2 separate regions of the Homo sapiens genome follow, and region 1 is linked to region 2. The links come from fine-mapping of genetic effects on gene expression. A gene starts in region 2. The other region holds a variant in brackets. All regions are shown on one strand. Distances are between the middles of the regions. Region 1 overlaps RUVBL1 (RuvB like AAA ATPase 1). Region 2 holds the start of LINC02034 (long intergenic non-protein coding RNA 2034).

Evidence for each region. PIP is the estimated chance that this variant, and not a neighbour inherited with it, causes the effect. A credible set is the group of variants that fine-mapping cannot tell apart.
Region 1: its variant is the best candidate, but not a certain one, in a credible set for the expression of LINC02034 in cerebellar hemisphere (GTEx, PIP 0.70).

The regions. Positions count from the first base shown.
Region 1 is chr3:128,113,751-128,119,123 of GRCh38, forward strand. The region is part of intron 2 of RUVBL1 (RuvB like AAA ATPase 1); the gene reads right to left. Among named protein-coding and RNA genes, the nearest start is that of RUVBL1, 7.4 kb to the right of the region's middle. The variant G/A (reference allele first, on the strand shown) is at 2,591.
Region 2 is chr3:127,535,093-127,540,465 of GRCh38, forward strand. LINC02034 (long intergenic non-protein coding RNA 2034) reads left to right here and starts at 2,257. Exons shown (of 7, transcript XR_007096067.1): 1 at 2,257-2,344; 2 at 2,875-2,991; 3 at 3,260-3,417; 4 at 4,375-4,621; 5 at 5,193-5,349. It overlaps LINC01471 (long intergenic non-protein coding RNA 1471), which reads right to left and starts at 2,688. Exons shown (of 7, transcript NR_125397.1): 1 at 2,581-2,688; 2 at 94-371.

The sequences.
Region 1 (5,373 bases), 580 kb after region 2:
GTCATCCAAAATTGTTCTCTCAATATCAATATATGGCTCTGACCTAATTGCTCCGAATACACCACTGGATCTTTGAGATACCTGCTTTCTCTTTTTACAAATACAGGAAAACACCAATCTACAACCCATCAGAAATAATGAAGGAATGAATGAATGGATTGTTCATTTTATGTTATGTAGCCCACAAAGAGTGAAGAAGGATACCTCAAGTAGGATTTTGAAGCTATGAGTTGGTCTTAACAAGTTACACTTAAACACGCCCTGTGGTAAACTACAAATTGATTTTTGACAAGATAATTACAGCTGGCAAATGCTAAACAGAACCAGACTTCACAGGTGTACGGTCAAATGTCAAGTATGGCAAGCAAATGCTTTAAAGTTGGTACAGAACTGGGCAATGCCATGGCCTCTAAATGCCATTTTCATCTTTCCTCAACTCTGAAACAGGAGCACGAGTAAGGCCAGCTCCCCAGGTATATGGGCTAAGACTGAAAACAAGCTTGTTACTGAAGAACAAAGTGAAACTGAGACGGTGTCTTAAAATTAACAGTCAAGGTTCCTCTCAGATTTTCTTTTCTATGCCCTTTTGGTGATAGTTTTGAGGTAGTAAAATCTGGTAGAGAATCAGTGTATAGCACAGTATAAAATGCACTAGCCAGGAACAGAAAGATTAGTGCTGGTTCTGCCACTAATTTTCAGTGTGACCTTGGGCACTCAGCAAATCTCAGGTGCCCGATTTCCTCATCTGTCAAATGAAAGTACTAAAGTGCCATGCTAGATCACAAGTGGCAAACTCGTTGCTCACAGCCTGGTTCTGTTTGGCCTGCAGTCTCATGGTGACCTTCAGCAAGGCCGAGCACCTGGGGCTCAAGGCAGACACGCCACAGTGCACCCAGCCACTTCCCTCATCCCCGTTGCCTGCCTCATTAGGCATCTGCACTTGTGAGCTCAAGGCTGACACCTTGAAAACTGGTATTCTTCTAAGAGCAAAGGAAAAAAATCTCTGGAACATGAAAGGGCACAATGAGAGGAGCAGCACTCTAACAGCAGACTCCCCGTGGGGCCACAGGCTGGACAGGACCACCCCTTCCCAGTTACTCCTTTCTCTTCCTTGTATCTCTGCCAGCCCCAATTCCCTACCCTCAGTTTTGAACTTCAAAGACAGTGACCACATCCAATTCAATGGCACTCTCCCTCCCTTTAACTAATACAGAAGAGATGAACATACTTCCATTAAAATATGATAAATACTTGGTTAAAAAAAAAAAGCTTCATGTGTGTCTCGTTTCCTCCATTTAAAGACTTCCAGAGGGAAAGTATATGATATGGCTACTATTCCTACACCTACTACAGAGTGCTGCATAGACCTCATCGAATCTCCCCAACTAGCCTATGACCTTGATCATCTAGTTTGTATTTTATAGATTAAGAAACAAACTCAAAAGTTACCAACACACCCAAGGTAAAACCGCAAGCAGCAGCACCAGGATGCAAACCCCAATCTCCAAAGCCATTTTTTTTTGTACTCACCCCATGTGAGTGACAAGTGGCACAAAAAAGAGGTTGTTGCCAAAAGAAGGTTGAAGAAATCTCTATTTTTCAATCTCATCTGAATATCTCCTTCTTCTAAAACCCAAACCCATTATTAACAGTGTGAGGTCCTCAAGAGTGGAAATGCATATGAACCATGCATTTGCATCTCTAAAATAAGCAGTATTTCTGCCTGTCACCCAGGTAAGTTGCCTAAACTTTGGGACCCTGCAGCAAACCATTAAGCAGAAGTCACCAAATTCCTTCATACACATTGGAAGGGAGTGGACAAACTTATAAGGTAATACCACAGTGCTGAGCACTTCTCATATTTCCTGGGAGGAAAGCAATACAATATCACCAAAAAAAATGAAAGACATATGCTTCTAGCAATATGGCACACTGGGTCCACTGAAAACCTCTCCTCTTACAAAACACCTAGAATTGAATAAATAATAACATTCAGAGCAGTAAACTATTTGCCTTGAAAGTTCAGAGACTGTAGATACAGGAAAGCTCAGCAAGGTATAGCACTTAAGATAGAAACCCCTGAATAAAACCGGGACTGGGCACGGTGGCTCAAGCCTGCAATCCCAGCACTTTGGGAGGCCGAGGCAGGTGGATTGCTTGAGCCCAGGAGTTCAAGACCAGCCTGGGCAAAATGGCGATACCCCATCTCTACGAAAACTACAAAAATTAGCCAAAGCGTGGTGGTGTGCACCTGTAGTCCCAGCTACTCAGGAGGCTGAGGTGGGAGGACCACCTGAACCCAAGAGGTAGAGACTGCAGTGAGCCGAGATCACTGCACTCCAGCCTGGGTAACAGACCACTGCACTCCAGCCTGGGCGACAGACTGAAACTGTCTCAAAAAACAAACAAACAAACAAAAACATTACAATTAAAAAAAAAACATAAAAGAGGACTCTTGAAGGGCCACACATGAGTAAAAAAGGTGGGCCATAACAAAATACATCTGGGGGCCAGGCACAGTGGCTCACGCCTGTAATCCCAGCACTTTGGGAAGCCAAGGCAGGTGGATCACCTAAAGTCAGGAGTTCGA[G/A]ACCAGCCTGACCAACATGATGAAACCCCATCTCCACTAAAAATACAAAAATTAGCCAGGCACCTGTAATCCCAGCTACCCAGGAGGCTGAGGCAGGAGAATCGTTTGAACCTGGGAGGCAGAGATTGCAGTGAGCCAAGATCACGCCACTGTACTCCACCCTGGGCAAGAGAGCGAGACTTCATCTCAAAAAAAAAAAAAAAAGACATTATAACTTGTAACAATTTATGCAGTGTGTAATCTTTGATTGCATTTTGATATTCTGGTGTTTTTTAAAAAGCCAAAAACTGAAACAACTTGGAAAGATGTTTTCTGATTTCTATCACCTATATTTTCTTTTCATTAAAACAATTTAACTTCGTTGTCTTTGAAAGCACATTTGTTAACTGCTCATGGAATCATATGATGAGCTGCCAGGCTCCCTCATCTTTGTGATTTCTCTACCACAGTGGATATGGTTACCTACTCCTTTCTTTAAAGGTTCTCCTTTCTTGGTTCCTGAGACACCATTCTCTCCCTGGCTCTGCTGCTCATTTTTTAAAAATTAATTAATTTAATTTTTAATTGACAAAAATTGGGGGAATATAATAGCATTAGCAAGGTGGGTCTGATGATGGCACCGTGGTCATGTAGGAAGACATCCTTACAACTTACTGTCAAGTGGTTCAGAAATAAACTAGAGAAAAAGCAAATGTCACAAAATATTTATAACTGGCTATCTAGGTATAGGGTATAGAGGGGCTCATCACACTATTCTTTCAAGTTTTTTGTAGGTTCCAAACTTTTCAAAATGAAAAGGAAAAAAATATTCAATAGATTGGATTAATCAGTCACTTAATCATAGCTTAAGAGACAATTAGACTGGAACAAAGATCTAAAAGAAATTACCCATAATTTAGCAGAGTCAAAAAGATAACAAATATGAGAGGCTAAAAGACAAAGAGGACAAAACGAGAAGCTCTAGCCCAGGGTTTCTCAGCTTGACTCCATGACGTTTGTGGCCAGATAATTCCTTATTATGGAAACTGCTCTGTGCACTACAGGATGTTTAGTAGCATCCCTGGCCTCCACCCACTAGATGCCAGTAGCACCCCCAACCAAGTCGTGAGAACCAAAAATGTCTCCAGACGTTGTCAAAGTCCCCTGCAAGGGCAAAACTGCCCCAGGTTGAAAACCACTGCAATCTTAACCTCATCTCAGTGGAGTTCCAGAAGGAAAGAACAAAGAGAATGGGGAAAGGCAATAGCTGAAGAGATTAACGCTGACAGTTTTTTTGTTTTTTTTTTTTTTGAGACGTAGTCTTGCTCTGTCACCCAGGCTAGAGTGCAATGGCATGATCTTGGCTCACTGATACCTCTGCCTCCCAGGTTCAAGCGATTCTCCTAAGGCTGACAATTTTCCAGAATTGAGCAGAGACATAATACTCAGATTCAAGAAGCACAATTAGCATTAAGCATGATAAACAAAAATTAATCCACTCTGACATATAATAGTGAAACACCAAACCCAAAAATATCTCAAAAACATGCAGAAAGAAGACTCAAAACCCTCAAAATTAGACTTCTCAAAAACAACAGAAGCCAAAGGAGCAAATAACATTGAGAGAGAAGTACTGTGAAACAGTACTGAAGAAAATATCTGTCAACTGAATTATATAGCCAACATAGCTCTTTTTCAAAACAAGGGCAACATAATGAATGCAAACGTGAGAGACTTTCCCACCAACAAACTTCTAGAAGAAATTTCTAAATTATTTACTTTAGGAAGAAGAAAAATGGAGGGAAAGAGAAGGTCTAAGATATAAGGAATAGCAAGCAAATAAATGGTAAATGCACTGGACAAGCTAATGTTGCCTGGAGAGAGGTAACTGAAGCTCACATCTGTATGGCACTTTACAGTTTAAAAAACTGTTCACAATTTGCTTTTATATAGGAAGAGAAAAAACTGTTCACAAATATAGCACTTCTTCCTCTTGTAAGATACCAATATAAGATACACAATCAGTAATCATTTCAAAATTATAATGCAAGTCATTATCTTACAATCGATCAGTTTAATAATTGCTTGAAATAGGTAGAGTATGCTTTTGCTTAGAAAAGTTAAGGGACCTGCCTCAGGTCTCATAGCAAGTCAATACTAGAGCTGGAATTTAAAGCCCATTTCTTTTCACACACAACCCCAAGCTCCTACTTGCCCACATCAAGCGGCCCTTTTGAAGAATAAGCAAGCTCAAATTGGGAACTCTGGTGAGTTTCAAGTATCTGGCCAGTCCCCTCACGAATCCCAAGAAGCCACACGGTGTCCTCTGCCTGAAAGGCCCTTATCTTCCCTGCAAAGCCAAATCCTCTCCCAGCTCTGAAGGGAAAATGTCAAGTCTCAACCCTTCCAGCTGTACCAGCCCACAGTGCTGCCTCCTTAAATTCCAGCTGCATTTAATATTAGTCAATACCTCAAAGCTGAGCACTCATACTGAGTCCTCCTGTGCTGTCATGATTTCCTTTCTTTCTGCCCTGGAGAGACTGTAAGCCCCTTGAAGATAAAAATCATGTCTCTAATTCTTGTTTTCCTTTTTTTCATCTCCCACACAGCCACAATAGCGATGCGTAAAGCTAGCATTTGGAAGAATGCTTGACTCATTTTTTTGTCCCCTCAAGTAAGATGTCACTCAGAAGATCTTTATGAAGCCCTAGGCCAACAGAAATGTATTTCCACAGCAAAGGAGACTTGAAAGAGAAAAAGGACAAATTCTAGAGACAATGAGACCCCTTCAAGGACTTCATTCT
Region 2 (5,373 bases):
ATTTCCTTCACATGAAACTTCTTAAGCCACTTGCTCATTTTGTTAGGGTTAGTTTAATTAAAACCAGAGACTATAATCCACAAATCCACTTACCCAGGCAATTCGCTGAAACAGAATAGACCTGCATGGGCCCCTCTATGCTTCAGGCCTCCCCCTGCTGCGAGGGGATGTGGCTGTCCGAACACCAGGGCTGAGAAAGGACCTCCGGAGGGCGGTGCCGTCTTTACAGTAGGCATTGATCAAGCTGATTGCTTTCTTGTTGTGGAGTAACACAGGTACAAAATAGAAGTTCTAATGTTTTCTTCTCACACCCTGTGGTATTCATAGAAGTTCCAGCATATTTTTTGCAGCATATTCACCAGTGGCTTGGCCTGCATGGAGGGTTGGTGCTCCATTTTGGGGACCCCTGGGCTGGGTCCTCTGCTATCCTTCGCAAGGCTAACTTGTCCTCCAGGCTCTGGAGACTCGCCTGCCCCCCAGGAAGAGAGGCAGAGAACATGCACAGCATGCACTCGAGCCTGACTCCCCAGCTGCATCAGGACCCCCCCTCGCTCTGGTCACAGCCACCTTCCTCCCTTTGGTCAAACATGATGCTGACCATACCACTGGGTACAAGCGACCCCCTGAAGCCTCTGAGGGCAAGCTCCTGCTCTCTGTGCTCACGCTGCCCACACAGGCCAGTGCTGAGGGGTGCTGAGGATGCACGGTGGAGGAAGGAATGGGAGAAGAGTTTGGATCTGCTCTGAACACGCGGGGAGAAGACCTGCTCCTCTCTCTCACCACAGCCCACCATGCCCCAGCACACAGCTGTGTCTGCTGTACATCTCACACCTGCCCCTCCTGTCTTCCCCACACTCAGCCACCAGTCGGAAAGCTGTGACCCCTGCTTCCCAGCTTCCCCTCTAGACACCCCTGCACCCCCAGGACTCACGGCACGTCCCTGCTTAGATGCTGTCCATGGTTCCCCCACCGCGTTTAAAGGCTACACCTGCCCAGGCGCGAGGCTCACTGTTGGCCCTGGCTAGCTGCTCCCCCACCACCCCGCACTGGGCCTCCTTGCCCTTTTTGTCCTTGGAACCTTGGCACAGGCTTGGGATGCTCCCCAGCTCTACACAGCCACCCTGCTCCATGTCCCTTGGAACCTAGGCAGGGCCTCCTGCTGTAAGCCTCATGTGTTTCTCTTCTCTTTAAAGGCCGCAGTGTACCCACACACCCAGTGGGCGTTTGCTAAAGGCAGGCACACAAGAGCAAAGAAAGGGAAGGAGAAAGGAACAGCATGCCCTATCCTGGGAGGTGAGGCAGTGGGCAAGGCCCCAGGCTCTGGGCTGAAGGCGGCCTCTGCAATCCTAGGTGACACCAAGGTCCAGGTGGGGTGGGGGTGAGCGGCATACCTGATGGGCACAAGGGTGTGGACAGGGCTGGAAGCAACTGTCCCAGTGTGTCCTGCTTTCCCTCCCTGGGGGGTCCCTTGGGCATCTCAGCCTGGTGAGGCACTTTCCTCCCTCCAAGTGCTGGCACGTGACCAAGAGAGGGTGGCATCAGGAAGCACCTGTGCCTGTGTCTGTGTGAATCAGATCTGCCTGTCGCCGTGAGCTTTGTGTCTGCCTGGATTGGTGCGGGGGTGTGTGTGTTTGTGTACCGGCGTGTGATTGTTTTGGTTTGCTGTGATGAGTGTGGGTGTATTTCTGTGGGGGCCATGAGTGCTCTGTGGGGGTGTCTGCTGTGGGGGTGGGTCTGGGTCCCCACATGCCCGCGGAGCTGTGTGTAGGTGTCTGTGTGCTCCTCGAGCCTTCATGCTTCAGCTTCCCCCACCACAGCCCCGCCAGACCCTGCCCAGTTCCCCACTCTTTGCTCCCCCCAGTTCCCATCACCTAGCAACAACAGAATCAAAGCAGTGGCCTCTGCAGACAAAGAAGGTGTCTCTAGGAGGGAAGAGCTGGGAGGTGGGAAGTGGGGGAGGGGCCCCAGACCAGGCTCAGAGCATATCCTTGCTCCTGGCCTCCACCGCAGAAGGTGGCTCACCCCTCTGCATGGAACAGTCTCTCTCCATTCCCTCTACCCTGGCCTTCCTCCTCCTTGCAGGCCCCAGAAGCTGGAGGGGGCTGGTCGGGGTTGGGCTCACAGACACAGTGGTGGAGCTCACAGAAGTGCCCCCACCCACCAGGAGCCCAGGGTGGGCCTCAGCCAGCCGGGGGTAATGAGGCATGGGATGGACTCTGCGGGCACCAGGCCTGACCCTGAGTGCACCCAGGCGAGGGCGGGGGACACTCAGATCTGCCCCTCTCTGCAGGAACCTGGTTTCCCCACCCTGGAGGCCAGCGCCAAAGGACGTTCACGTGCAGCTGTGGGTAATGGGTGGGCCATCCTGAGGGTTGGGAATGGAACAGGCCCAGGTGCCTCCTCTGGCCCTCAATGCCCTGCAACCTGGCCTCTCCTGGGACTCCAGTCTCCCCCGCACACCCCTGCCCTGTCCCCACACTCCAGCCGTGCTGGCCAATGGGCCAGACTCTCTTTCTTGGGGTCTTTGCACCGCCCTCCCCTGCCCAGCACACCCTTCCTCCAGGTTGCCACGGGGCTCACGCCATCGTTCCTGTGGTCATGCGGTTGCCACCACTTGGGCAAAGCTGGTCCTGGCCACTGTATGGCGGCTCCCCTCCCCACCCACTCTGTCCCCCACCTCTGCATTATCTCGCCTGAGGCACTTAGCTCACTCTAAGATGGTCCTAGTTACTCCCTGATTGTCTATCCTCTGACTCACCCGTGATCTAATAATAAGCTCCATGATCTAATAATAGCCAGATTCATTTAGCACTTACTATGTGCCAGGCACCGTTCTAAGCCCTTGATGTCTTCTAACTCATTTTACCCTTGCAGCAACCACACAATATAAGAGCTACTGTCTCCAATTAACACTTGGGGACACTGAGGCAAAGAGCCTGGCTGAATATTGTGCCCGTGAAGACAGAGGGACAGCCTATTTTGTTTGCTGCTGTATCCTTAGCACCCAGCACAGGGAAGGGGTCCTGGTACATTTCTAGAAAAAATGGAGGGGAGCAGAGTCCCCCTGAGCACCTGGGGTTTGATGCCTCCCTGCCCAGAGCCCTTGCTATAGCATATGCTGGTGAGGGCCGAGGCTCTAGCTCACACTCCAGACCGGGGTAGGGATCCAATCTGGCTTTGAAGACATCATGCAGAGCCTCTGCTCTGGAGATGGGAACCTGCAGACAAATGCCTCCTTATCTCAATCCTCTGAAAACAGTTTGACCAGGGAGACAGCGTTCACTCATGAATTTAAGAAAAAAAAAATCCCTGATCCCTACTTTTTGCCAACTTCAATGCTGATTTCTAGTGGTACCAAGAAAAATGCAACTGAGCCTCCATCCTCAAGGGGCTCACAGTCTTGTGTGGAGATAAAAAGTGAGTGGTCATTCAGATTGCGGTGAAATCTCCCAACGACTGTCTTCTATTCACAGTTATCAATGTCCTGGAGCGGAGCTGCTGGGGAGGAAGTATGGGGAGTGGCAGGAGATGAGATTGGACAGGGAGGGACATCTCTGAGTTCCCAGCCAGAGAACTAGAGGGCAAACAGAGGCCATTCATGGTCCCATGCCACAGGAGTGACACATTCGCCTTTGTGCTTTCTAGCTGACTCCTGTGCAGGTGCAGGTGCAGGTGCAGGTGCACACACACACACACATGCCGTGTTAGTGGGGCTAGGTGCCACCTTACGAGGCCCCCAATGGAAAAAGGTTTAGGGCAGGGAGTCAGGGGTTTATACAACCATTGGAAGGGCTGGAACATCAAAAGTTGGGACTTGGAGTTTACTGCCAGCTTTCAGGGAAGTAGGATGTTACTGTTGCCTCCCAGGTCGGGAAACTGCTGAAAATTGCTGAAGATGTTCAAGGCTTTCTGTTGTTATTGCACTCAATAAATATTTATAGAATGAATGAGTGAGTGTTCACAGACTCTCATATATATTTATATCACATGGAACTAGTTTTTCCCCCAATAATTATTTATTAGAAAGGTGAATAAAATTATAAATAACAAAAACAATACCTTCACCATTAACTTAAAAAAATTCTAAATACAATTCTTTGGACTCTCTTGATCATTATTCTTATGAATACATAGGGATGCAATCAAAATAAAGAATATAATTTTGCATCCTAACCTTATTTGCTTAATTTTTAAATTTTGAAATAACCACAGATGTATAGGAAGTTGCAACGATAATATAAAGAAGTCCTTTGATGTCTTCATCCAGTCTCCCCCAGTGGTAACATCTTATGTAGCTATTCAATACTGAAGCCAGGACATTGACATTGATACAATGCACATGTTGAATTCTATGTCATTTTATCATGTGTGTAGATGCAGGCCTGCTGCAGATCCAAGTCCTGTGACCGGGGTCCTGCCCAAGGGTCCTGCTTCCCTAGGCATCCCAGAAGTTCAGCCTGCATCTCGACCAGAGCCTGAGAGTAGACACCTGCCGGTTTATCTGTCCCTTCATGTAGCAGGTGACAGAGGTGCCAGGGGCATGGCAGGGGTACTCTGACACAGCACTGCCCCACGGAGCCCATGTCCCAGGGCAGAAGACCCACGATGCACAGCCAGCCAGGTGAGAGAAGAAATGTCAGATACAGAACACAATGAAGAAGAAAGCCAGCTATGAAGGTGGCCCCGTCGCAGGCTAGGGTTGGGAAGAGACCCTGAGTTGGAGGTGAACATGCAGGACGTTACTTAGGGAGGGCTCTTGCGTTGATACTGTGGACAGAAAGGGCAAGAGAAGGCAGGGCTGGCGGGGAGCTGTGATGAGCTACAACAGAAGCCCCAGCAACGCAGGCAGAGATTCTGAAGATCGATGGCCCTTCAGAGGGCCCCGGGGAGCTGCACCGGTTGCTCATAGGGAGGGGAGCGACCTCAGTTGAGGCAGCTCTCTGCAGCTGGGTGTGCTGACTCCCGGCGGATGGGGCGGTGGAGCGGGGGGGGGGTCCGAGCACCCCCACAGATGCTGTCCAATTAGGAAGGCTTCTGTGATGCCTCATCTTGTACATCAACTTGGCCTGGCCACACTGCCCAGTTTCTGGTCAAACTCTGGTCTAGACATTTCCACAAATGTATTTTTTTAGATAGAAAAAATATTTAAGCCAATGGACCTTGAATAAAGCAGATTACCCTCCATCATGTAGGTGGCCTCATCCGATCAGTCAAAGGCCTCAATAGAACCAAGACTGACCTCTGCCAAAGAGAGAATTCTTTCAGCAGACGGCCTTCGGACTTGAGCTATGACGGCAACTCTTCCCCGGGCCCACCTGACGGACTGGGTTTCTCAGCCTCCACAGTCGTGTGAGCCAATTCCGTAAGATAAAT